Linked DNA regions of Homo sapiens: all the other regions are linked to region 3. The links come from fine-mapping of genetic effects on gene expression. A gene starts in region 3. Each other region holds a variant in brackets. All regions are shown on one strand. Distances are from middle to middle.

Region 1 (8,174 bases), 27 kb before region 3:
TCGGAGCCATTACTGCAGGAAAAGGTCCCGGAGAGCTGAGCAGTCAAGATGGTGGGGCCCAGGTCTTGGGAGACGGGCAGGATTGGGGACGAGAGGCAGGAAGAGACGGGTGGGGGGCGAGGAGAAGGCAGGGGTAGGAGGCAAAGGGAATCTGAGGACCCGAAAGGTTGGAGGTGGGGTTGGAAAGACTGGGGCCCTGCGGGGAAGCGAGTCTGCAGCCTGAAACAGGAGTTTGTGGGTCAGAGTTTGTGGGTCAGAGTTTGTGGGGCTGGGATAGAAACTCGGGGGATTGGCGTTCAGATGCTGACCACTTCCCTCTTCTCTGAGCAGTGTGACTTCACCGAAGACCAGACCGCAGGTAGGTTATCTCTGATCCCTACCGAGGTCACCCTTAGGGAGAGGGACACCCTCCCCCCAGCACCTATCCTCTAATCTTAATCTGTCATCTCTTTAGCACCCCCATGAGATTACCCCCTGGATTATTTTCTCTTCTTCTGGATCCTCCATTTTCTTTTCTCACTTTCTTCCTCCCTCCCCTTCCACTCTAGATCTGATCCCAAGCACTGGGTGAGTTTTAGGTGGTGTGGGTATGTGAAAAAACTTGGTCACTTAATGCCTGCTGTGTGTGGGGTCTCGGGAGGGTGTATAAAGCTGCCTGCTTTCCTTTGTCCTTTAATCAGCTACTTCTGCCTCTTTTCTCCTCTTGTGATAACTGTCCCCGCCCTCCCAGCTTGCAGTTGTGAAGATTGTAGAGCAGTGACCTGATATTCTGTGCAGATGGGGACAAGACAGGGGAGTTTGCTAAGGATATGACTGTAGCTATACCCTCTGGAAGTTCTCTTTATACTGGAGGGGTGCGAAGTGGCAGGTTGGGATGACCCTAGTCCCAGGCTGCTGCTCCCACTTCCTTATAAGGACAGGACTGAGACTGGGCGGTGGCGAATTCCTGCCCTGAGAAGTGTAGTAGCAGCAGTGGAGATTGGCAGGCCTGCCGCAGGCAGAGGGGTTGTGTAAATGGATGTTACCAGGCTGCCAGAAGGGGAGGAAGCCTCTATATAGAACACTTGAGTTGGGAGGAAGAGAAATAGAGCCCTCTTAAGTAGACTTTGGTGTACAGTTTGGTGCAGATATCTCGTTTCCTCAGCATGATCAAAGTTGAATGGGCAGCAGAGCTCTGAGGTAGGGTTTGGATTAACCCTCAAATCCTGTGTTGACATTCATCTGAATCCTCAGAGTTCAAGGAGGCCTTCCAGCTGTTTGACCGAACAGGTGATGGCAAGATCCTGTACAGCCAGTGTGGGGATGTGATGAGGGCCCTGGGCCAGAACCCTACCAACGCCGAGGTGCTCAAGGTCCTGGGGAACCCCAAGAGTGATGGTGAGGGGCCTAAAGAACAACTCCTCAGTGTGGTCATGGGCCCACAGTTCTTCAGCTAAGAGCTTCCCTTTATCTTCATAGGCCCCAAACTCAAGCAAGTCTGGATTAGCAAATCCCATGGATTTCCTTGCTTTTAGTGGGGAGTCATCTGTCATCTCTCTGTTCAGTTGAGGTCTCTATAATCCCCTGTCCTGAGAACTTGTGTTACTTCTCTGGCCTGACACTTCCACCTCCTTTATGGCAGAGATGAATGTGAAGGTGCTGGACTTTGAGCACTTTCTGCCCATGCTGCAGACAGTGGCCAAGAACAAGGACCAGGGCACCTATGAGGATTATGTCGAAGGACTTCGGGTGTTTGACAAGGAAGGAAATGGCACCGTCATGGGTGCTGAAATCCGGCATGTTCTTGTCACACTGGGTAAGGTTCTGTGTCCTTGTCCTTGAGCTGAGATGGCACCCTGAGGTACCTCACTTGTCACCCAATTCCAAAAATGCTTTCTTTCCCCCTGCAGGTGAGAAGATGACAGAGGAAGAAGTAGAGATGCTGGTGGCAGGGCATGAGGACAGCAATGGTTGTATCAACTATGAAGGTAAGAGGTGAACTGCGCTTTCTCAGAGAAAGCAGCCATATGGGGCAGGTCAAGTATAGTGTCTGGGGCTTTCCCTATCCCTGGACTTGGGCTCCAAAAAGAGCCAGGAGGCAAGGTGCAGGGCCCTGCCCAGCCCAGCCCAGGAGTGGGAGGTCAGGGCGGTATAACAGGAAAGGAAGGGGGTAGTATTGTAGAGGGTGGGAAGGAATGAGAAGTGAAATAATGGAATGTCTGTCCCCACTGCCTGACCCCTCACCCCATGTCTTTGTCTTGTCTTCACCATGAATGTCTCTTCCTTCCTGCAGCGTTTGTGAGGCATATCCTGTCGGGGTGACGGGCCCATGGGGCGGGTACGGCTCCTCCCAGCCTCTCCTCTAGTTGATCTCCCCAGTGTTTCTTTTTTCCCCAACCTGTGCTCTTTATCCCCTGCCCTTACCCTACTACCATCTGACTTCCTCCTGGCATGTTTCTGCATGGAGCTGACTAGGGAGGGGAGGGATTCCTCAAAGAGGAAGACAACCTGGGGGTACAGTACCTCCTTACCTCTAGAATGGGCCCTGAGGTTTTACTTATGCGGCCCTGGGTGCTGGTGTCTGGGAACTCTCACCAGCCTGTATACCAGTCTTGCTTTAGGGTGACCTTCTGGCCCTGGAGCATGGGTAGCTGGCATAGAGGGGTATGGGTTGCCTGCCCCATTCTGCTGCTATAGCTGAACAGTCCTTTCCCCTTCCCTCGCTGGGCAGCTTGGAGGTACCCTAACCCAAAACTCTGTCCTCTCCTCCCGCCAGTGGCTGACAGTAGCTGTAGGTGTAGTGGAGAACTTTTCTGCCTCTGCTGTGTTCTTGCTGCTTAGGTTTGGGTGGGGGACTAACAGCTGCTGGGAGGGGAGCTAGGGGCATGGAGAACTGGTCAGACTCAAGGTGGCTCCTCTGCAAACTGACCCCAGGGTTGGTTGCTGTGGGCATGTTCCCGCTTATGCTACCTTTGCAGTCTGGTAGTCCCCTGGCCCTTGGCGTACCCCTCCACAGCCCTGTTCCCTGGCTCATCCCACCTTTCCTTTCCACAGAGCTCGTCCGCATGGTGCTGAATGGCTGAGGACCTTCCCAGTCTCCCCAGAGTCCGTGCCTTTCCCTGTGTGAATTTTGTATCTAGCCTAAAGTTTCCCTAGGCTTTCTTGTCTCAGCAACTTTCCCATCTTGTCTCTCTTGGATGATGTTTGCCGTCAGCATTCACCAAATAAACTTGCTCTCTGGGCCCTCGGTTCGGTTCTTTCTTTCCTGAACAGGGTAAAGGGGAAGAAGGTGAGATGGTGATGATTTCTGCCCTGAGGCAGAGTCCAAGGTCAATCAATGGTGCAGGGGTTGAGGAAAGCTGGGGGAGGCCCTGTACTAGCCATCTGGGCTTCATTTAAAAACTACTGGCCCCATTCATCCATCTTACACAAGCTACCTCTTGGGAGATTAGGAAAGCCATAGATCCCAGTAGGACTAAGGCTGGCCATCCCTGTTCCATTCCATATCAGGCTGTCTTCTCCTACCCTTCCAGCTCCTTAAATCTGGCCCCCGCCCTCCCAAGCTCCCAATAAGGCCTTTTGTGGGGAAGCCTGTGGAGTGTTTATTGGAGCTAAAGCCAGGCCATTATTAGCACTGCCTAAGCCTGTCCGTCACCTCAGCAGGGTGAAGGGCCAATTATAACAAAAGTAGGTAAGGGGCTTGCCTCCTCTCTAATAAGGGAAGGAGTGAAACCACTACTTCTGAAGGGACAGAGATACAAAATTCCATGTTGTGGGAATGTCCTTCCAAGTCTTAAACAGCTTTTAGGGCAGGTGAGAGCCTCTGCTCCTATACCAGCACATAGTCTCGACAGTTGTGCTGCCGTTCGTGTTTTGTGGGGAGGCGCAGTGTCTGTAGGCCGTGTGGCTTGCAGAGTGTCTTTCGGCCCAGGTAAACGCCGCTGTGAAGGACTCCAGGAAAGCTGCTCCCATCACAATCCCCCTGCCTGACAGCCACAGGTAAGAACACAGAATGCACCCACAAGATGGAACTGAAAGCAAATTAATTTATAAAAAAAAAAAAAAGAAAGAAAGAAAAAAAGAGAAAATTTACAGAAAACTTTGAACAGAAGAAAGGTGCTAAGACGCAGAGGGAGAGAAACATGGGGACATGAGGAACAAAGGGCCTGGTGGGAGGAACCAAGAAGAACCAGTGCAGAGCCTGGAGTCACACCTGCCTTCCCGTCACAGGGGAGAAGCTGGGACACGTGGAGCAGGAATGCGGGAAGCAGAGTTGAGCTGCGAGCCAAGGGTTGGTCCAACCCAAGGTTGGGCACCCTCTTCCACTGCTCCCAAATCCCTGCATCCTCATCTGGGGAGCCCCCAGCTATCAGCTGAAGTTCTCATAGTCTTGGTGGGAGAGGGAGGAAGCTAAGGGGTGACCCACCAAGTCATAATATGGAGGTGCTTAAGTGCTTTAAAAAACAATTTCAGGTTTTAAAACTTCACATCCTCTTATAGCTCCCTTCTCTGTGCCTTCCAGGAGTCCATGGATACAGCCCAGGGAAGGAAGGAGAACAGCCCCCAGTGCCCTTTCTTCTCCTATTACCTACCACAGAAATCCCCGAAATTAGGTTTTCCCCACCAAATACACATACGCTGACATCAACTAAGCAAGTGACTTTTAAAAACAAAACTGACATTCAGAGGGAAAGGAATCATTGGCTGAGCTGGGGTGGCCTAAAACAGCAACAATGAGGAAGCCGCAGGAGGGATTATTAGTACGAATGAACTCGAATAAGCTCAGCGTAGGGTGGGGGAGGGGAGTTGGGGCCTTGACTTAGTCACTAAAAAGGGGCTTGGGGAGAGATGGAATCTGCGCCCTGTTCTATCCCCAGAGCTCTCCCTGGAATCTTAATTCCCCTTTCCTAAAACTCACTCCCCCTCAAAAAATGTAAAAATTGGTTATTTTTTAGTGGGTAGAAGGGAGCTCCAATGTGGCTTTTTAAAATCTA[CT/C]TTTTTTTTTTTTTTTTAATCCATAGAAAATGCAGTAGTTTGGAGGGAGGTGTACCCTTAGAAGTGGTTAATAGAACCTTGTATAAACACCTTTCACCAGCCCTTCCTTTAGGGCAGCATTCCCATCCTATCCTCTCTCCCAGACATTATAAACATCTTTTAAACAGAAGTCCTTGAATAATCTGATATAAAAATGCATGCCTCTGTTAGGCATGGTGAGGGCTTTGGAGGGGCGGAAGGAGCTTTCCTTACGTAGTGATGAACTCTCCAGGCTGGGGAGGGTCCCAGTGGTGGGGGAAGGGCTGTTCCTGGAACCGTGATGTCCACAGGGGGTGAGGGGGAGAGATGTCTGGCTGGCTCCTCACTGTGGAGGTGGCACAGGGGTGACCGTGCCTGGGCTCGGGGCTGTGGGGTCTGGAGGCAGGGGGGTGCCTGGGTCTGTGGAGAAAAGGAAGATAAATCAGTTAGAGTACGCCGGAGAGATGGCTCCAGACCCAGACCACCACAGACAGACAGAACCGGGCATGGCATGCAGTGGCTGGGTGGATGAATGAGGTACCCATAATGTTCAACTTCTGTTCCCAACACTCTTTTCTACCTCATACTCAGAAAAACATATAGAAAGACTCTCTATATGGGGCATTTGAACGTGATAGGAATAAGCAAAGGGATGCCACTCAATCATCATGCAAACAGCTGCTTTTCAAGTTTACAACTGAGATGCTCTCTGCCACAGGATTGCTCCATGACCCACCAGTGAAAGGCCCCAACATCATCCCAAAGGTGGCAGCTGCCAGGCTGGGGAATGGTGGAGGACGGCCAGAGAGGCCCTTCCTCCTGTATTCTAATTTTACCAGAGTGTTCAAAAAGGATTGTGGAAACTCTAATACCTGACCTCTTCCCCACCTGCCCGCTCACCCTCCCTCCAGGTGGACCCCTCTCCCTCACCCTTCTCCCCTCTTGGCCCCTTCTCACCTGGCAGTGGGCTGGCACTGGGCAGGAGGTTGCCCTGAACAGCTGCCACAATGGCAGGGCTTTGGGCTGCGGCGGATCCGAGCCCCGGCCCGAGAGGCAAGGAAGATGGCATGGTGGTGGTCGCCGGCAGGTTAGGATGTAGAGGGTTCGCCATGGACACAGGCAGGTTAGGTGGGGGGAGAGTGCCCGGGGCGAACGGGAGATGGTGGTGATGCCCATGCAGGTTAGGAGGAGCGGGGAGGTTAATACTGATGGAGTCAGCTAGACTACCAAATGGGATGATGGATGGAGCAGGAGGAGGAGGAGGAGGCGGCATGCCAAAAGGCAAACCCAAAGGAGCATTACCCGCCACGCCTGGGTGCCCGCTGCCTGGCACTGCCCCTGGCATCATTGAGGGAGGAGTTTGTTGGTTGGGGAACGGTGAGGGGCCTGAGAATAAAGATGAGAGATGGAGAAAATTAGGTATAAAATTTTGCTTAACAACTCACCTTTTCTATTTTTTTTTTAGACGGAGTCTCACTCTGTCACCAGGCTGGAGTGCAGTGGCACGATCTTGGCTCACTGCAACCTCCGCCTCCCGGGTTTAAGCAATCTCCTGCCTCAGCCTCCCGAGTAGCTGGTACTACATGTACGCACCACCACGCCCAGCTAATTTTTGTATTTTTACTAGAGACGGGGTTTCAACATGTTGGCCAGGATGGTCTCAATCTCCTGACCTCGTGATCCACCCATTTCGGCCTCCCAAAGAATAACTCACTTTTACAAACAAGGATAATCTAGCCATTCCTTGGCACTATCTTCCCCTTTTCTGACACTAGAGTAAGTGAATAAAATTCCAAAGCTCTCGAGTTTGGGGAAGGACTCCTGCTGATTTAGGGGCCTAAGAGAGATGGGCCCATCTGTAGAAATTGAGGCTAACCTCATCTCCACACTCATCTTGTATCCCCTTTGAGGAGAACTGGGACATTCACCTGGATTCCTCTAGCCAACAAAAGTTCTGGAACATAACACTTACCATGGGGTCCAGGGGGGGGAACCCCTGGTGGGACTGCCCCAGGCTGGGGGGCTCCAGCTGGTTGCTGCTGCTGTGGCCCTGCAGTTGACCCTGCCTGCCCAATCTGTTCAGAAGGGCCCAAACTTCCTGGAGGGGCCCCACTGCCAGCAGGAGCAGGGACTACAGAGGCTGGAGCCACAGCCAAGCCATGGACTGCGGGTGGCCCAGCAGCCCCTGTTGGGGGGATAGGCTGGGAGCCTGGGGGCAGGGCTGGTGGTGGCTGCTGCTGCTGTTGGTGCATCTGTTGGAAGTGCTGCTGCCGAGCCCTCATCTCCGCATACTTCAGCTGCTCCATGTGGAAGGCTTGTCTGTCGGCCAGGAGCTGCTGCCTCTGATACTCCAGCTGCCAGTGCCAATTGAGTATTGTTATCCAATTTTCAGCAGATCCCAAAGGCAAATGCCTCAACCCCTGCTTTGTCTTCTTCTGAAAGAGCCTGCCTCTCAATCAGAAGGTTCCCAAAATCTACATCTTGTGCTTGTGCTCCCTCTGTCCTCCCCACCCGACTTCGTGCAAATTCCCATGACCTTTATGTCTCCTGAGTGCCCACATGGTTTCTTATTGCAATGACTTTAACCTGGCCCAAGCTCACTTCAGCTACAAAGCTTTGAACTTGCCATTACCTTGATTTGGAAAATGCTTCCAGTTCCTTTTGTCAATTCAAGTTCTTTTCTTACTTCAAAATTCACTAAAAAGTCACTGTTCTTAGGAAGCTATCCCAGATCAATTCATTTGCCTCTGAGCTTTAGCTTTATTCTATGATCTCAGGACTTAGAAACTTGATGTGCAATCTCTTTATTTTTTTGAGACTGAGTCTCACTCTGTCACCCAGGCTGGAGTACAGTAGCGTGATCTCAGCTCACTGCAACCTCCGCCTCCCCGGTTCAAGCAATTCTCCTGCCTCAGCCTCCCGAGTAGCTGGGATTACAGGTGTGTGCCAGCATGCCGGGCTAATTTTTTGTATTTTTTTATTCTTTAGTAGAGACGGGGTTTCACCATGTTAGCCAGGATGGTCTCGATCTCCTTGATCTCGTGATCCACCTGCCTCAGCCTCCCAAAGTGCTGGAATTACAGGTGTGAGCCACCGCGCCCGGCTGATGTGCAATCTCTTAATGTGAATTTGTCAGATACTTTAAACCTTCTTAACTGTTTCTGATGTCTCCATATTGTATA
Region 2 (8,174 bases), 64 kb before region 3:
CCAGCGACTGAGCAGACTCTGGCCCCCACTGTGGGCACTGTTGCCACTTTTAACCATGGCATTGCCCAGACTCACACTACTCTCAGCAGCCAGGCTCTACAGCCTCGTCCAGTGTCCCAGCAAGAACTGGTGGCCCCTGCTGGAGCTCCAGCTGCTCCCCCAACTAATGCTGCACCTCCTGCTGCTCCACCACCCCCACCCCCACACTTGACCCCAGAGATCACGCCACTGTCAGCTGCCCTGGCTCAAACAATTGCCCAGGGAATGGCACCTCCACCTGTCTCCATGGCTCCTGTGGCTGTATCTGTGGCTCCTGTGGCCCCTGTGGCTGTATCGATGGCCCAACCCTTGGCAGGAATCACAATGAGCCACACCACCACTCCCATGGTGACTTACCCTATCGCTTCCCAGAGCATGCGCATCACGGCCATGCCACACTGATGGGGCTAATGGACACTCCCCTGGTATAGCCTCGCAGGGCTGGGGTCAGGGGGCCCTTGCCCACTCACCTAGCCTTCCCCATCCCTGTCTGAAGGGCTCCCTTGAGAACTAGGACAAGAGACTACAAGGAGTATGTCCTGAGGAGGGGTTGGGATGGTGTGTTTTCTCTCACCTCCCTTTTATGAGGGTCCTCTTGTCCATCTTCAAGCCTCACAGTGGGGGCTTGCAGAGGAGTGCAGACTGAAGCCAGCAGAGAGGAAGGACTGACTGAGGGGCTGTGTCCTCTTATGGGAATTTGGGAACATCCCTCGTCTTGTCCTCTCTTCTGCACAGCACAGGTTCCAGCACTGGTTTTAGAAGAAAAAAATACCCTGCCCAGAGGGAAAGCCAGGAAAGATTGGGAAGTGGGTGGTCAGGAGAGAAGGCCTGATAGGAGCCTTCAGACAATTTGGGTCCTAGTTGCTTGGGTTGGACAATACAGGAATTGCTTCTGGGCCCTGGGAAAGCTGGGACCATAGTGCTCCAGCCCAAAGACTAGGGGAGCATTCATTACCCTAGTTTGACCTGAAAATCCATAGGGCAGGGCCCACTACTTTCCAAAGAAATAAAAGAACAATTATTTTTAACAAATGGAGGCAGTGAAAACTTGCTTAGCTATTCTGTGTGGAAGATGGGAGCAGTAAATAGATCTCATGCCAAAATGGGATAAAGACCCCAGCCTCACATAGCTTTGGTAAGATGGATAGAAGCCAGTGAAGAAGGGTAGGGACCCAGAACAAGACCAAATGGGGCTTTGGGGAAGGCACTTTATGGGGTAAAAGCTTTGGAGCCACCCAGTCTAGTTTTAAAAATAGTCCCATCTGTTTCTGGTCTCTGTCTGTATGTGCTATTCCCAGGTTGCCTCAGTAACCAGGGCTCCTAGGGTCATTTAGCAGGGCAGGCAGTAAGGAGAGTGTATTTGCTGAAATGCGGATGGGATGTTACATAGTTGACAGATCCTTATTCAAACAGAGCAGGACAGGTGGAGTTGATGGCCATTGAGTTGATGGCAGTTGCCGCTCAGTTGATGGCAGTTAATGTCCCTCCTACCCCACCCCTTCAGTGGCCAGTTCCTGAAGCCTTCAAGGCTTGGGAGGTCTGGGAAAAGAGAGTCCTTCTAGGGACACAAGCCTCAGGGTCCATCCCTTTCCTCTGTCTCCACATAGGACCAGAAGTTTTAAATCTACTTAAGTCAGTAAGGCCAGGGGCCCCAATAGTCAAACCTCAGTTCCTCCTCAGCTCACGGCTGATGTAGGGAAAACAACTCAGGTGTCTAGTCTAATGGGACAGTAGATTTGGGGGTAGAGAGTGATCCTGGATTGTGTTCCCCCTCATCATGTCTCCTGCTACCTCTTGCTTTCTTGTCTGGTTGATCACTCAGGTCACATCTGGGATTGGAGATGGTGGGCTAGGTCAAGGCCAGTCATTAAAAAAAAAAGCCTAAAGACTAAAAGTGGGCTAACATTGTGGATTTTAGAAACAACACATTGATAAGCTTAATGTTTTTTGGGACACAATTTTTTTTTTTTTTTTTGAGATGGAGTCTTGCCCAGTCACCAGACCGGAGTGCAGTGGCGCAATCTCGGTTCACTGTAACCTGCGCCTCCTGGGTTCAAGCGATTCTCTTGCGTCAGCCTCCCGAGTAGCTGAGACTACAGGCGCCCGCCACCACGCCCGGCTAATTTTTTTATTTTTAGTAGAGACGGGGTTTCATCGTGTTGGCCAGAATGGTCTCTATCTCTCGTGATCCGCCCGCCTCAGCCTCCCAAAGTGCTGGGATTACAGGCATGAACCACCGTGCCCGGCAATTCTAGACTATTAAAAGAGATGGTTTAAGAGCATTTAGAGAAGAATGTAACCATAGATACCAACATGAATTCTCAGTCAAATCCTGACTGACTTTATTTCCTCCTTGCCAGGTTATCTCCAAAGAGGTAGATTTGGGAAATTTTAGACATTGTATGTCTTGTATGTATTTACTCCAGCTGAAGACCACCAAGAATACACCTGGTAATTGAGCAAGTTGGGTTTAATGCTCATTGCAGTGAGGGGGAGGGCTCACCATTGGGGATAACGTGGTGTGTCTCAGCATGAGGGTGTTAGGAACGACTTAGAGAACTTAGACTTTGGTTAAGTGATTTTGGGGAAGATTCAAGAAAGTGGGTGTTCTTTTGGATTGGGTGCTGTTAAGGGAATCCAGGATAATTGGGTAGCTTGTCTAGAAGAAGGGCAGACAAGTGAACCTAAGCACAGTCGATGATGAAGTCACTCACTAGCTGGGAAAGGGGATGTTTGCTGTTTTGTGGTTTGCACACTGACCTTGTTTTGTGCTTAAACAAAATTGTGTAGTGATTTTGTTTTTTGTCTCACTTCATCGCAGTCACTGAGTGACCTTGTCTGATGCTGGTGTTTTGTGAGATTGTTTGTGTCCAAGAGAACTCATTGGCTACCTGTGAGCACCAGGTCAGCCCTAACAGCTCTGAAGCCTGGCTGTGTCAGGCCAGTTCCCAGATTACAGGAGCTACTTTCCTCTCTCTCACCTGCTAAGTCATCACAGATAAGAGGAAAATTACGGGTCAGTTAATCGTAGCATTTTTTCCATGCAAATGGCTCTGGTTAAAAAATAATGAGAAAAAAATAGTAGCATTTGGTAGAATCAAACTGAACACTTGTACTTAGTGTTGGTTAGCGCATTTATGTTAGAGAAATCTCTGTTCTCTAGTGATAAGCCCAAGGGCTATGTTTTATTGTAAAAAGAAAAAACCCAACTCGGGTAAACATGTAAAAAACCCATTTATCAACAGTAACACAGGAAGAGCTAAATAATATTCAAAGTGTCTGTAACTTGAATTGACTAAAACACTGGAGCACTCTCACACTAAAAAATTGCTTAGATCTTGAACTAGTTTGAGGAACAATGTTAGAGATTTATATTAGCAATAATTCACATGAGAACAAACTGGGACTTCCAGTTGGCTGCAAAAAAATAGAATCTTAGCCCTCAAGATGTCCATTTATAAATATTTATTAAGAGCCTGCTATGTTCTAGGCATCTTTCTAGGAGCTCCATAAGGGTAGTAGAACCTTGGTAATAGATTACAAATACAGCAGTTCTATGTTCTGCCTAAGTGTAACCACTTAGTAGTGTGTTGTTCTAAATGTAATTTTTAAAGAGGGCCATTGACAAACCAGTGTGTTGCTAGAAAAAAAAGGCTGGCAAGAGAAAGCTTCAAATAGAAGTCTTCAAATATTTGAAGGGCTGCCCAGTGGAGGAAGATCCTGTTTGCTACACAGGAAGTAAAAAGGGATTTCTAGAATAATGGCTAACTTTTTTTTTTTTTTTTTTTTTGAGACGGAGTCTAGCTGTGTGGCCCAGGCTTCAGTGCAGTGGCACGATCTCTGCTCACTGCAAACTCTGCCTCCAGGGTTTACGCCATTCTGCTGCCTCAGCCTCCAGAGTAGCTGGGACTATAGGTGCCCAGCTAATTTTCTTTTTGTATTTTTAGTAGAGACGGGGTTTCACCGTGTTAGCCAGGACGGTCTCCATATCCTGACCTCGTGATCCGCCCACCTCGGCCTCCCAAAGTGCTGGGATTACAGGCGTTGAGCCACCGCACCCAGCCGGCTAGCATTTGTTGACTGCTTAATATAAGCCAAGGCTCTGTGCTAGGCACTTTACATGCAACATCTCATTGACACAATGGGTAATATTATTGTACCCATTTTACAGAGGAGAAAGCAGGCTTAAAAAGTAACCTGCCCAGGGTTCTGCAAGTAAGGAATGGGGCCAGGAATCTATTCAGGCAGTCTCACTCCAGACGACAAAAGAAAGTTCTAATGATATAGCCATCCAACAAAGCGATCACTACTTGGCAGTAATTTTTTTTTTTTTTTTTTGAGACGGAGTATCACTCTGTTGCCCAGGCTGGAGTGTAGTGGCGTGATCTCGGCCCACTGCAGCCTCCGCCTCTCGGGTTCAAGTGATTCTCCTGCCTCAGCCTCCCAAGTAGAGTAACTGGGATTACAGGTACATGCCACCATGCTCGGCTAATTTTTGTATTTTTAGTAGAGACGGGGTTTCGCCATGTTGGCCAGGCTGGTCTTGAACTCCTGACCTCAGGTGATCCAACTGCCTCGGCCTTCCAAAGTGCTGGGATTACAGGCATGAGCCACCGCGACTGGCTTGGCAGTAACTTTTGAGGAATAAAGAATACAGAAGGAGTTTCCTCAAATCTTGTTGCCCTTCCCATCTTTGTGAGCTGAGATCAGAGTACCGTATCTCACCCTCTGCCTCTTGGAGGTGATTATGGTTTACATATAAATGCAGATTGCAAGTCCAGGAAGTTTACTCTCTCTCCTCCTGTAGGCCTCATCCTGTAAGACACTTCCTCTAACAAATGGGCATCCCTTCCTGTTGTCCACTTACTGCTTATCACCACCAGGTGGCAC[C/G]TGGGCAGCAGAATTGTCAGTGGGCGGGGACCCACCCTGTTTACTTGTGTTGGTAACTGCATTGCAGCTGCTGATCCTGTGGCTCCTGGGCCCCAGCTGGGACAAGAACTTCCTGAGGATGAAGTTTTATCCCCTATATAATTTCTGATGATCTGGATGAGGTGAGGAAGGGAGAAGTTTGGAAAAGAACCTCCATAGGTCACCCTCTCCATTCCCCCATTCTCAGGAACCTCCTTGCCTACTCCAGTGCTTGGCAAATTTCAGTTTATAGAGAGGTTTCTCTCTAAGGTTCATCCATGTTCCTTCTGTAGTTCTGCTTTATCAGTTGGTGAGCAGGTCACTCATAATTCCTCCAATTTCCTTGTTTCCCTTTTCTACCTGCTTACCTCTGGGAATATGGAGGATATAGGAGACAGAATATTGTTTCTTAAATAGTTCTGCAAACTGAATGAAGCAGTCAAGATACTGCTAGCCCTAGGGAAGTAGAGAAAAGGAAGTGAAAAAATTTAAGTGATAGAGGCTGAGCAGGGACAGGTTTTAAGCAGCTTTGGTAAACACAGGCTGATGAAATCTATGCCCTGCAGAACCAGATAAAATTTATCAGCTGCAGGCCTCATCCTGTAAGACACTTCCTCTAAGAAATGGCTAGTTTCTTCCCAGTGATCAACCCCAGTTCTTCTGCTGCATCTGACAGATTTACATAATATGCCCCATATATACTGCATTAAAAGGTAATCATCTTATGACCAACACTTCCCTCATCAACTTCCAATTAGTCTAGTTCCTAGATCCTAGGACAACACTCCACCTCTAACGCCAGTTAACTAGTAACAATAGTCATCGGTGTACCCTGCACTTTTTCCTTCCTAAACCTACACCGTACACTGTGGGACTGCACTAGTTCTGCACCTGACTGTATGGCAAACCTTCCTTCTAACTCAGGCAAATGTGAAAAGGAATTGTCTTTCCCTTACTCTTGATCCCTCATTTTAGTGTCCTAGAAGTTCTTCAGGGTCAGAAAATTATTGGAAAATGTAATAATTTGCGCTGCCTCCCTCCCTTTTGGAGCCAACTAGTCTTACATCCATCCTCTAAGATAGAGATGACTTACTAACTCTTGGAAATTTCCAAAAAGAAATAAAGCCTCACTTTCTATTCACTCTGCTTTTTTTCCCCCTTTCCCTGAAGGCTGGATTATCTCAACTCTGTAATTCTCTGACTCTCCAGTTTTCTCCAGGGTCAGTCGTTACACCACACAAAGAAGGTAGGGGATTAGGGACGGGATAGACGGGGTTAGTTTTCAAACACTTTCATTCCAAATACGATCGTATCCTTTCCTTTTGTAAGGGCAGGCAGGAAAAAGTTGAAGGATAAGGAATGTGCTTAGAGTATGAAAACTAGAGAAAGTCGGCAAAAGAACATATATATATATCCCAGACCAAATCCTGCCAAACCGAATGAGTAGAGGGAAATCCTGAAGCTCCACAACCCCTCAACTTCGCAACTTGGGCTTTCTCCAAAACCAAGAAATTGGCGGTGCAGCTCTGCATGACGTCATACCACAGGCACTCCAATCCCACGTGGGGGAGCTCTTGGTCCCGCCTCTCCTGAAATGGTGCGCCACGCCTCCTCCTCTTTATTACCAATCGAATGCCGCCCCTGAGCCCCTTTCTTCCTTTTCCCGCCATCTCAGACCTCCCATCTTGGCCTTCGGGCCCAATCAGGGAGGCCCTACCTATCCGAAACCCGGTCCGTTCCCCGCGGAAGAGGGGTGGAGTTTCAACCTTTTAACTCCACCTTGGTCTGTGCAGCGCGGACCAACCCAAATCGCCAGAAAGGAGGGGCGTGGCTTGAAGTCCCCTCCTCCATCCCGGGGATCACGTTTTGCCTGGGGGAGCTGATCGCAAGACTAGGCAACCTCCAGCCAGTCCCTGGGTCGGGCGGATCCTCCCAGAGGTGGCACAATGGAGCGATCTCCAGGAGAGGGCCCCAGCCCCAGCCCCATGGACCAGCCCTCTGCTCCCTCCGACCCCACTGACCAGCCCCCCGCTGCTCACGCAAAGCCAGACCCAGGTTCTGGGGGCCAACCTGCTGGCCCTGGCGCGGCGGGTGAGGCCCTGGCGGTGCTGACTTCATTCGGGAGGCGGTTGCTGGTGCTGATACCTGTGTATTTGGCCGGGGCAGTGGGACTCAGCGTGGGTTTCGTGCTCTTCGGCCTCGCCCTCTACCTGGGCTGGCGCCGGGTCCGCGACGAGAAAGAACGGAGCCTTCGAGCAGCGAGGCAGCTACTGGACGACGAGGAGCAGCTCACTGCGAAAACTCTCTATATGAGTCATCGAGAGCTACCTGCCTGGGTGAGCGACCACCCTCGGTCCTCTGTGCAGCATAGCCCCCTTCCACCCCTTCCATCTGGGGCTTTTCCTCCTTATGCCTAGAGTCAGCTCCCTGCCTTGGGACAGTGGGCCCCAGACTTTCCCCTCTCTCCCCGCTAGCCGCCTGCCTGCTGGACGCGCCACTCTTGGAACCGACTGCTCACTCTCCCCACCCACCCTTTCGCATGCCCAGACTGGATCCTTCCACAGAATCAGGACTTCTTCCTCTACTTGGGCAACAGCAGTAATAACATCTGGGGACCCCGTCTCAGCCGAAGCTCTCCCTCCTAGCCAAGCCATCTTGAACGTCCCTCTTGCTTTTGGTGCCACTCGCGGCTTTGCTGCTCCTGGAAATCCTGGTCCCGTTACCTCTCAAAGGTTTCCCTAGTCTTTCCCATCCTCCTCGAGACTTTTTACCTACTTAAAGCCATACGGTTCTCTCTTTTCTCGCTTTTATCCCCGGGTACCCGCTAGGACCCAGCCCCGGCCCCTGGACGACCCTCGGGCAGCCACCTTCAAGCCTCCAGCCGCCAGACTGCAGCGCGGCAGAGGCGGCTGCTGGACGGAGGGAGGGCTACGGGAGGAGGTGGTGCGGCTGCTGCAGTGCCCGCGGCGCACACTCCCCCGCACTCCTCGGCCGGCCACACCCTTTTCCGGACTGTGGGCTGCGCTTGTTCCGTTGGGGCAGAGACCCTTATTTCTGCGGCGGCCGCGTCTCCTGTGCTGAGGCGGATGCCTTCTCTCTAGTCTTGCAGAGGCGAAGCCGGTTACCCGGCCCCTCCCAGCAGAGGTGCCAGTCTAGGGGGAGAATGGCAGCAGAGAGGAATCAAAATTGACACTAGACAGACACAGCCAAGCTTCCCAGGCCCTGGA
Region 3 (8,174 bases):
TTATAGGAAAGGGGTGTTTTAGATTCTCACTGAGGGAAGGGAGATAAATAGGGTATATGCCTATTACCTGCACCAAGGACTTCTCAATGGTCATAAACATTTCCACATTGCGGTCCATGCGTGATGGATTCTGGAAATCGTAACGCCGCCTTGTGAAGAGGCAATAATCTAGTGAGTGGTATAGCTCAGGTCTGCAGATGAGGTGAGGGCACGTGACTTTTTTGTTTGTTTTTTGAGATGGAGTCTTGCTCTGTCACCTAGGCTGGAGTGCAGTGGCGCGATCCCGGCTCACTGCAACCTCTGCCTCCCAGGTTCAAGCAATTCTCCTGTCTCAGCCTCCCCAGTAGCTGGGACTATAGGCACACACCACCTCACGTGGCTAATTTTTGTATTTTTAGTAAGTAGAGACGAGGTTTCACCATATTGGTCAAACTGGTCTTGAACTCCTGACCTCAGGTGATCCACCTGCCTCGGCCTCCCAAAGTGCTGGGATTACAGGCATGAGCCACCACACCCGGCCTTTTTTTTTTTCTTGAGAGGGAGTCCCGCTCTGTTGCCCAGGCTGGAGTGCACTGGCGCGATCTTGGCCAGCTGCAACCTCTGCCTCCTATGTGCAAGCCATTCTCCTGCCTCAGCCTCCCAAGTAGCTGAGACTACAGGTGCCCGCCACCATGCCCGGCTAATTTTTGTATTTTAGTAGAGATGGGGTTTTGCCAAGTTGGCCAGGCTGGTCTCAAACTCCTGACCTCAAATGATCCACCCACCTCGGCCTCCCAAAGTGCTGGGATTACAGGTGTGAGCCACTGCGCCCAGCCATGACTTCTTAATATGGGAAATTAGGAGGCAAGCTTGCTCACAGCTATTGCCAAACATCACCTGGGATCTGAGGTTCACTGATCTCAACTCCATGAATCACTCTCTGTGCTTACTTCAAAGGGACAAAAAAAGGTTTGAGATGCCAACCTAAGAATCCCTTTTCCTCTACAAAACACACAGTGATACTCACACACTCACTCTTGGAGACTGTTTTGGCTCTGACTCCCAACCATCTTCCTGACGTAGTAAGTCAGGTCTACTGACCCAGCAAAATAAAGAGACTCACAAGAATTTCTACCCCAGAAAGATCCCAGGGAATCAAAAAGGGGGATTTCCTCTAAACTAAATATAAGAAGAATAGAGAGAATCATCTCACCATCCCTGGTCACTCTTGAATTTGTAGGCAGCTGCAAGAATGTGGCACAAGGAGCCTCCCGCTTTGAAATCTAGGAAACATTTGATCTACAAAATCAAGATACGGAAAAAGCATGTCAAGGTTCCACTGTAAATTCTCTCATCACTTAATAATCTAATAATCCTTTCACAAAATCCCATGCTGAATTGATCTCCCTTTTTTTTTTTTTTTTTTGAGATGGAGTTTCACTCTTGTTGCCCAGGCTGGAGTGCAATGGCGCGATCTTGGCTCACTGCAACCTCTGCCTCCCAGGTTCAAGCAATTCTCCTGTCTCAGCCTCCTGAGTAGCTGGCATTACAGGCATGAGCCACCACACCCGGCTAATTTTGTATTTTTAGTAGAGACGGGGTTTCTCCATGTTGGTCAGGCTGGTCTCCAACTCCAGACCTCAGGTGATCTGCCCGCCTCGGCCTCCCAAAGTGCTGAGATTACAGGCGTGAGCCACCACGCCCGGCCTCAAAGCTGAAATTCTTTAACCCTTGTGCCATTGCATCATGTGGCCTGGAAGAGGGGAGTGAAAGAAACCAACACACAGAAAGCACCACCTTGTGCTAACACTTTACTGGATTACCTCAGGTACCATTAAGGAAACTCTACAAGGTAGGTTTACTAATCCCATCTAGAGATGAAGGAACCAAGACTCATGAATGTTGCCCAAGATCACAGAGCCATCCAATGGCAAAGCCAGGATTTGAACACAAGCCTGCACAAATCCAAATCTCAAGTCCCCTTTTAACCATGCCATGAGAGACCTGTGGACTGATCCCAGGTACTCTGAAATAATTTGTTGCACAAAATATTACTAAGACAAAAAGAATGGTAAACTGGAGACTAGGCCAAGCCAATAATGCCCTGATCAGGGATAGGGATGGTGGAAAATAACCCAAATTTCAAAAATTACAAAATTCACAAATCTTTTTTTAAAATACAACTCTTCAGTTTGAAGGATTCACCACCACCACCCCCCACCCTCCCTGCTACTTCTGCACTCACCGGCAGTTTAGTGAGCGGTGCATTGCTGACATGTTTGCCAAAAACTTCTTCCTGAAATTGTAGCAACTGTACAACCAGGCTAGACAGGGACTTGTTGGTGGGTGGTTCAGCTTGTATATACTAAGGAAAAAGAGGGAAAGGAAAGAAAAATAGATCTCAGATAAATTGTCCACTATCTCCCATATTTCTCCCCCAGGGGCTCTGGAAGCATGTGGAGCAAAGAAAATAGTGCCCTTCTCCCCATTTAGTCTCTATAAAGAAAATGGCAAAAGGGAGGCCCTGGACACCCCAACCAGGAAGCTGAAATTCTGCTGCCACCAGCCCAGGTGGCCAGTGTTGGGGGGAACAGGGAAGCTTACTACTCTTCCTCAGTTATACTCTGAAATTGGAGTTGCAGGACCCTATTATCTTGGCACCTCATCTTTAACCAACAGCACTGAGGGTTGTAAAATTCTGGAGGTTTATAAAGTTCAGGTCATGGAAGCAATACCTCTGGGGCTCTAAGAGAGACATTTCTTAGGGGAACTCTGTAAAGCCATGATTCCCCCTATAATGTAGCCTAACAAGAAAAGGTACAAGGAAGTGAAGGAGGGCAAGTTGACTGAGTGAGCTTGTGCATTTTGCTTCTGAAGACTGGGTATAAATGTCTTCATAGGCCCTCCTAGACAGGAAGGGCCATCCACTACCCAGCCTGATGGAGAAGAGCAAGACAACATCTACCCTGTCCGAGGAAACTGTATCTGAGACAAGTAACCCTGGCCCTACTTCTATGTTTCCACACTCTGCTACCTAGTAGCATCCTAGCCTTCCATTCTAATTTGAACCTGAGCCAGGAGACTTTCTTTTTACTTTTTGACCCGTTTTCTCCCCACTCATCACAAAGAAGACAGTGCCTCTCAGTGAGAGGTGAAAAGAGATAGATCTGTGAAGGGAAAGGTAAATGACAAAGAGCTAAGAGCATGGAAGCTGAACCAGGTCACAACTGTCAATTCCCCCAAGGCCGGAGGCTAAGCCCCTAGCCTGATCTCCCTGCAAAAGGTCAAAGGTAGAAGCCTGGGAATAAGAGCCTCTCACAGGCGTAGAGACATGCCATAGAAATAGCAGCTATTTGTCAGGATTCTCACACCCAGAGAGACCCCAAGGGCAGGGCCAGGCTCACAACCAGCATCAGTAGGAAGTTCTCCTAAGCCACTAAGCACACTTCTGACGAGCTGCAAAGCCGGCAGGAAGAACTGGGGAGCTGAAAGAAAGCCATAAAGAGAATCCCTCTCTGAGGGTAGTGAGAAAAAGAGAGGCAGACCATTTCCAGAGAAAACCAGGCCTAGAGACAAAGACGACACCAGGAAGAGGTTTGGTAGAAAAGACAGGTAAGGATTCTTGAACCTTTTGTTCACCACCTTATGATCTCCAGTTATGGGGTTTGGGTGTGAGGGGCTAGAGATAGGAAGCTCACCCTAACCTCTCGACCCCAAACCCAGGGTACTGCAAAGCTAGGTTGCAAGGTGACTTCATTGTAAAATCGAGGAAAGGTTTCGGAAGGGGCCGCTACCCAGGAACTCCTATACCCCGGCTCCCTGAGAGATTCTGTTGCCCCTTAGATGAAGGTGGGGGATGAGCGGCGGAGACAGGTGATCCCTGGGTGGAGACCTTTTTCAGGCTGATGAGCAGCCAACGGCTTGCTCTGTGACTGTTTACCCTCCTGCTTTCCATTCTCTCTCTCTGAACATACACAAAGCACCGGAGAGGCCTCAGCCCCGCTGGTACCTGGCTCCGTGGGGAGCTCTGGCGGGCACGCTCCGGGTTGCGGGGGAGCCCATTGGGCACCCGGTCCACACCCGGCCGGCCGCCTCTCCCAGAAAAGCCAGGAGGGCGATGGCTGAGGGGAAGGTGGGCTAATGGCACCGGGGCCCGCCGGGCAGTAGAGAAAAACAAGGGGCAGAGGGCGCAGCAGTGGGGGCGGGGGCTGGGCTCAGAGGCTGGGGGTGCGGGGAGAGGGAGGCTGGGGGAGGGGCGCGGGAGCGCAGGAGGGCGCGCGGGGGGCTGCTTGGGAGGCCGCGGGGGAGGGGCTGGGGCGCCTGGAGGGTAGGCAGGATCCCGGGGCTGCAGGGCCGCGGTCCCTTTGTCCCGCCCCCGGTCCCCGCGCGGCCCGGCCCGGCCCGCGTACCTTCTTGTAGTTCTTGCCGAGCCACAGCCGCACGTTGTCGAACTGGGTCACGGTGTCCGCGGCCTCGTAGTACTTCACGTTGGGGCCGCCGTCCTTCTTCCGCACCGCCATCTTCTCCGGCTCGGGCCCCGCCGCCGCCCGCCCCACTCAGCTCAGCTCCCGCCTCCTCCGCCTCCTCCTCCGCCCGCCTCCCGCCGCCTCCCGCCGCCGCGGCCGCCGCCTCCCGCCGCCTGGGCCGGCCCCGGTCCGCGCTGCGCCCCCTGCCGGCAGGCCGGGCGCGGCGGCGGAGCTCCAGGCGCGGGCCGACCCTGGCGGCCTCCCCGGCAGCGGAGGCGGGAGCCTCCGGGGAGAAGGACGCTTCCTGGAGGGGGCGCCATTCTCCTGAGATCGCTCTTACCAGACGCGAAGCCCTTTCCCTCTTTTTGCCTCAGCTCGGGAGTGTCACCTCGCTATCCCACTCCAGGCGGCCGCCAGTCGCTGGAGCAGCCCCAACCCGTAGACCCGAGTGGTCCTCACCTTGCGCATTCCTAACCCGACGAAGCCCCTCGTCCCCCAAAACCCCAAACCCCTTTCCCCAAGAAGTTCCTTCCTTCCATCCATTCACAGCAGCTCCCCATTTAAACTTTTCAGAGTCTCCCTCACTCCTCGCGCCTTGTCCACCCAGCACTCCCCTCACTTGTTAACCCAAATGTCCCCTAGTCGCCACCCTGGCGGCCCAGTGCCTTCCCTCAACTGCTTCCTCCGCAGGCCTCGCTGTCGCCTCCTAAGTAGGTGTGAGCTCCTACTCGAGACCCCGACTCTTCGCTAGGCAGGAGACCCTCCCTCCCTGGGTCACCCAGTCCATCCGACTCTTTTTCTTTGGGTGGCGTAGATAGGAGGTAAGGAACCGAGGGGTGGGGAGTCCTCAGGTGTGTGTGTGTCGGGGCCGGTACCCTGCTTCCGGTTCCCGCACGCATTCCCGGATTGCAGTGCGGACCCCTTCTGTAAGCGCGCGATAAAGCGCGGTTTTGGAAGTCACGGTGGCCGAGTGGTTAAGGCGTTGGACTCGAAATCCAATGGGGTTTCCCCGCACAGGTTCGAATCCTGTTCGTGACGGGTTTTTTTTTTTTTTCTTTCTTCTTCTTATTATTAAAAGGGAGTCTCGCTCTGTTGCTCAGGCTGGAGTGCAGTGGCGCGATCTCGGCTCACCGCAACCTCCGCTTCCCGGGTTCAAGCAATTCTCCTGCCTTAGCTTCCCGAGTAGCTGGGACCACAGGCATGCGTCACCATACCTGGCTAATTTTTGTATTTTTAGTAGAGACAGGTTCACCATATTGGCCAGGCTGGTCTCAAACTCCTGACCTCAGGTTATCTGCCCGCCTCGGCCTCCCAAAATGCTGGGATTACAGGCGTCGACTTTTTTAACCCCTTTCACAGCACATAAAGGTAACCCCAGTTCTCACACGTTTCTTTCGTGCACTTTCTCTCTCCAAAAGGGAAGCCGCCAAAAGGTCTTAACCCCTGGATTTGGGAGGATGGGAGTGATCTTGGGAAGTTTAATTATGCACGACTGTATTGGCTGCTAGACTGTGAGGCATTTTCAGAATTTTGTAACTTCAGGCTTCCTGGGAGAGCTTTGGCACATGTCTCATTCTTTTGAGGGCATAGGGAAGGATTTGGTTGAAGGGTTACATTTTGGGAATGTGAGTGGCTGTTTTGCAATATTAGTCAAACTTAGAGTTTCCTCTAAATTTCATGACCAGAAGTCACACCTTGTAGGTCTGATTACACCGAAGACCCAGGAAACAGGATTCTCTCATCTGGATTTCCTTGAGGTGTACAGGGCTAGAAGGGAGTAGTCTATTGAAACATCATTGCAGATCCAGTTAGAGCCAAGGTATGGGAAGATAATTCTCACTTTTTATTGAGTGCTTATTATGTGCCAGATACTGTTTTAAATTATCTATGTGTATTAACCAAGCAAGGAAATTAATCTCATCTTTAACCTTTAACCCTCCTATACTCATCTCACCCCATTTTTCCTATCCCCTAATTTCTGATTGTGGGGAGGATCTAGGCTGCTTGTTGAGGATTTTGTTGTTTGTTTTGGGGGGTTGTTTTTGTGACAGGGTCCCGCTCTGTCGCCCAGGCTGGAGTGCATTGGTGCGATCTCAGTTCACTGCAACCTCAAACTCCCAGGCCCAAGCAATCCTCCCTCCTCAGTAGCTGGGACTACAGGCATGCACCACCACGCCCAGCTAACTTTTTGTATTTTTAGTAGAGACGGCGTTCTGGGATTTCGCCATGTTGCCCAGACTGGTCTCAAACTCCTGGACTCAAGCAATCCGCCTGCCTCAGCCTCCCAAAGTGGTGGGATTACAGGTGTGAGCCACTGTGCCTGGCCAAGGATGTTCTTTTTGTATTTCTTGCACAGCCTTTTGTCCAAAAGGAATCCCAAAGGGCAGGGGGCTCTAGGGTAATACATAGAGCTTTCTACACATTTATACCTTAGAGTTTCCCACCTTCATACCACTGCTCAGGCTGTTATTTCCAGCATGACCCTCACATTGCCTCCCTGTCCCTCACCATTAACACTTTCCAAAATTCTTTAGGCCCCTCCTCTTTGATGCTCTTGATCACTCCAGCTGCCTGTCAGTCTACCACCACCACCATTCACTAAATTGCATGCAAGGACTTCTCCCTTGATATGCTAACATAAAAATAAAATAAAAACAGGGGTGGGTGTGGTGGCTCACGCCTGTAATCCCAGCACTTTGGGAGGCTGAGGCAGGCGGATCACGAGGTCAGGAGTTCAAGACCAGCCTGGCCAATGTAGTGAAATCCCATCTCTACTAAAAATGCAAAAATTAGCTGGGTGTGGTTGGCGGGCGCCTGTAATCCCAGCTACTTGGGAAGCTGAGGTAGGAGAAATCACTTGAACCCAAGAGGCAGAGGTTGCAGTGAGCCAAGATCGTGCCACTGCACTCCAGCTTGGGCGATGCAGCAAGACTCTGTCTCAAATAAAATAAAATTAAAATAAAATAGAAACAGGTTCCATTTATTTTACCTTCTAAATATGTCTCAAATATGCTCACTTTTCTCAGGGGTGAGTGCAGGCTGAGCTAGAGCCTTCATTTGGAAGGTAGTGGTATTTGTGAGCACCATACGAGGTAATATATAGAAAACTGCACTAAAGCATCCACACTGCAGTCCGGGACCTTAAACCCTTCTATGGCTGCTTTCTGTGTTGCAGGATATGACCCCTTTTCTCTCACCACTCTTCCATATTCACTACATTCTGTCCACTGGCATTCTTTTAGTTCTTCCTGGTAGTTATTTAGCCTTGCTCATGGTGTTCTCTGCCTGGAATAATCTTTCTCTTCCACACTTTCTACTCATTCTCCACCTAAATGTTGGTTCTCCTGTGGAGTTTTCTCTGACCACTTGTTGCCTACCACATCCTATGCTCTCAACTTATTATGTGAAGTCTTTCTTCCCCTGTGGCATATAAACACATTAAACACAGATAAGGAGTCAGTTTTTAAAATTTTTTTGCATAAATGGGTGTTTTTTACAGTAGTTATGTGTACATGTTTTAATCTTTAGACTGGTATATAAGCTTCTTGAGAGTTAGGGCTGTGTATTTTATTTATTTGTATCTTCTCTACAAGGCCTTATAGATGTGATCAACTATGTGTTGAATGAATTTATAAAATCTCATAGGCTCATGATTCTCCTTCCTACCAAATCCCAATTTGCACAGGTTCTCATATTTAAATATCTGGAGAGCCAAGACCAGAATTGACC

Which allele goes with the higher level. Alleles are on the strand shown, and positions count from the first base shown. SD is a standard deviation of normalised expression in the study named. Not every link is listed here.
For the expression in monocytes of the gene that starts at base 4,521 in region 3, C is the low allele of the variant in region 1 and CT is the other (large effect, 1.0 SD a copy in Kim-Hellmuth 2017).

Evidence for each region. PIP is the estimated chance that this variant, and not a neighbour inherited with it, causes the effect.
Region 1: its variant is fine-mapped to the expression of SMARCC2 in monocytes (Kim-Hellmuth 2017, PIP 0.95).
Region 2: its variant is fine-mapped to the expression of SMARCC2 in whole blood (TOPMed, PIP above 0.99).

Annotation. Positions count from the first base shown.
Region 1 is chr12:56,158,354-56,166,527 of GRCh38, forward strand. It overlaps MYL6 (myosin light chain 6), which reads left to right and starts at 6. Exons shown (of 7, transcript NM_021019.5): 1 at 6-51; 2 at 331-358; 3 at 1,234-1,377; 4 at 1,622-1,795; 5 at 1,890-1,967; 6 at 2,273-2,317; 7 at 3,034-3,226. The coding sequence starts at 49. The coding sequence ends at 2,301. It overlaps SMARCC2 (SWI/SNF related BAF chromatin remodeling complex subunit C2), which reads right to left. Exons shown (of 29, transcript NM_001330288.2): 27 at 6,965-7,346; 28 at 5,950-6,378; 29 at 4,006-5,412. The coding sequence ends at 5,336. RefSeq lists a silencer at 275-454 and enhancers at 1,125-1,194, 1,235-1,304, 2,275-2,897, 2,898-3,518. The variant CT/C (reference allele first, on the strand shown) is at 4,974.
Region 2 is chr12:56,121,427-56,129,600 of GRCh38, forward strand. It overlaps ZC3H10 (zinc finger CCCH-type containing 10), which reads left to right. Exons shown (of 3, transcript NM_032786.3): 3 at 1-6,088. The coding sequence ends at 441. It overlaps ESYT1 (extended synaptotagmin 1), which reads left to right and starts at 6,841. Exons shown (of 31, transcript NM_015292.3): 1 at 6,841-7,283. The coding sequence starts at 6,894. RefSeq lists enhancers at 1-726, 4,814-5,073, 6,513-7,174, 6,980-7,229, 7,550-7,649 and 1 more and a silencer at 6,710-6,779. The variant C/G (reference allele first, on the strand shown) is at 4,930.
Region 3 is chr12:56,184,963-56,193,136 of GRCh38, forward strand. It overlaps SMARCC2 (SWI/SNF related BAF chromatin remodeling complex subunit C2), which reads right to left and starts at 4,521. Exons shown (of 29, transcript NM_001330288.2): 1 at 4,389-4,521; 2 at 2,225-2,344; 3 at 1,193-1,278; 4 at 68-149. The coding sequence starts at 4,499. TRS-CGA4-1 (tRNA-Ser (anticodon CGA) 4-1) reads left to right here and starts at 5,402; the gene lies at 5,402-5,483. It overlaps LOC107984468 (a long non-coding RNA gene), which reads left to right and starts at 5,730. Exons shown (of 2, transcript XR_007063330.1): 1 at 5,730-6,264; 2 at 8,131-8,174. RefSeq lists silencers at 4,258-4,477, 4,548-4,827 and an enhancer at 5,068-5,167.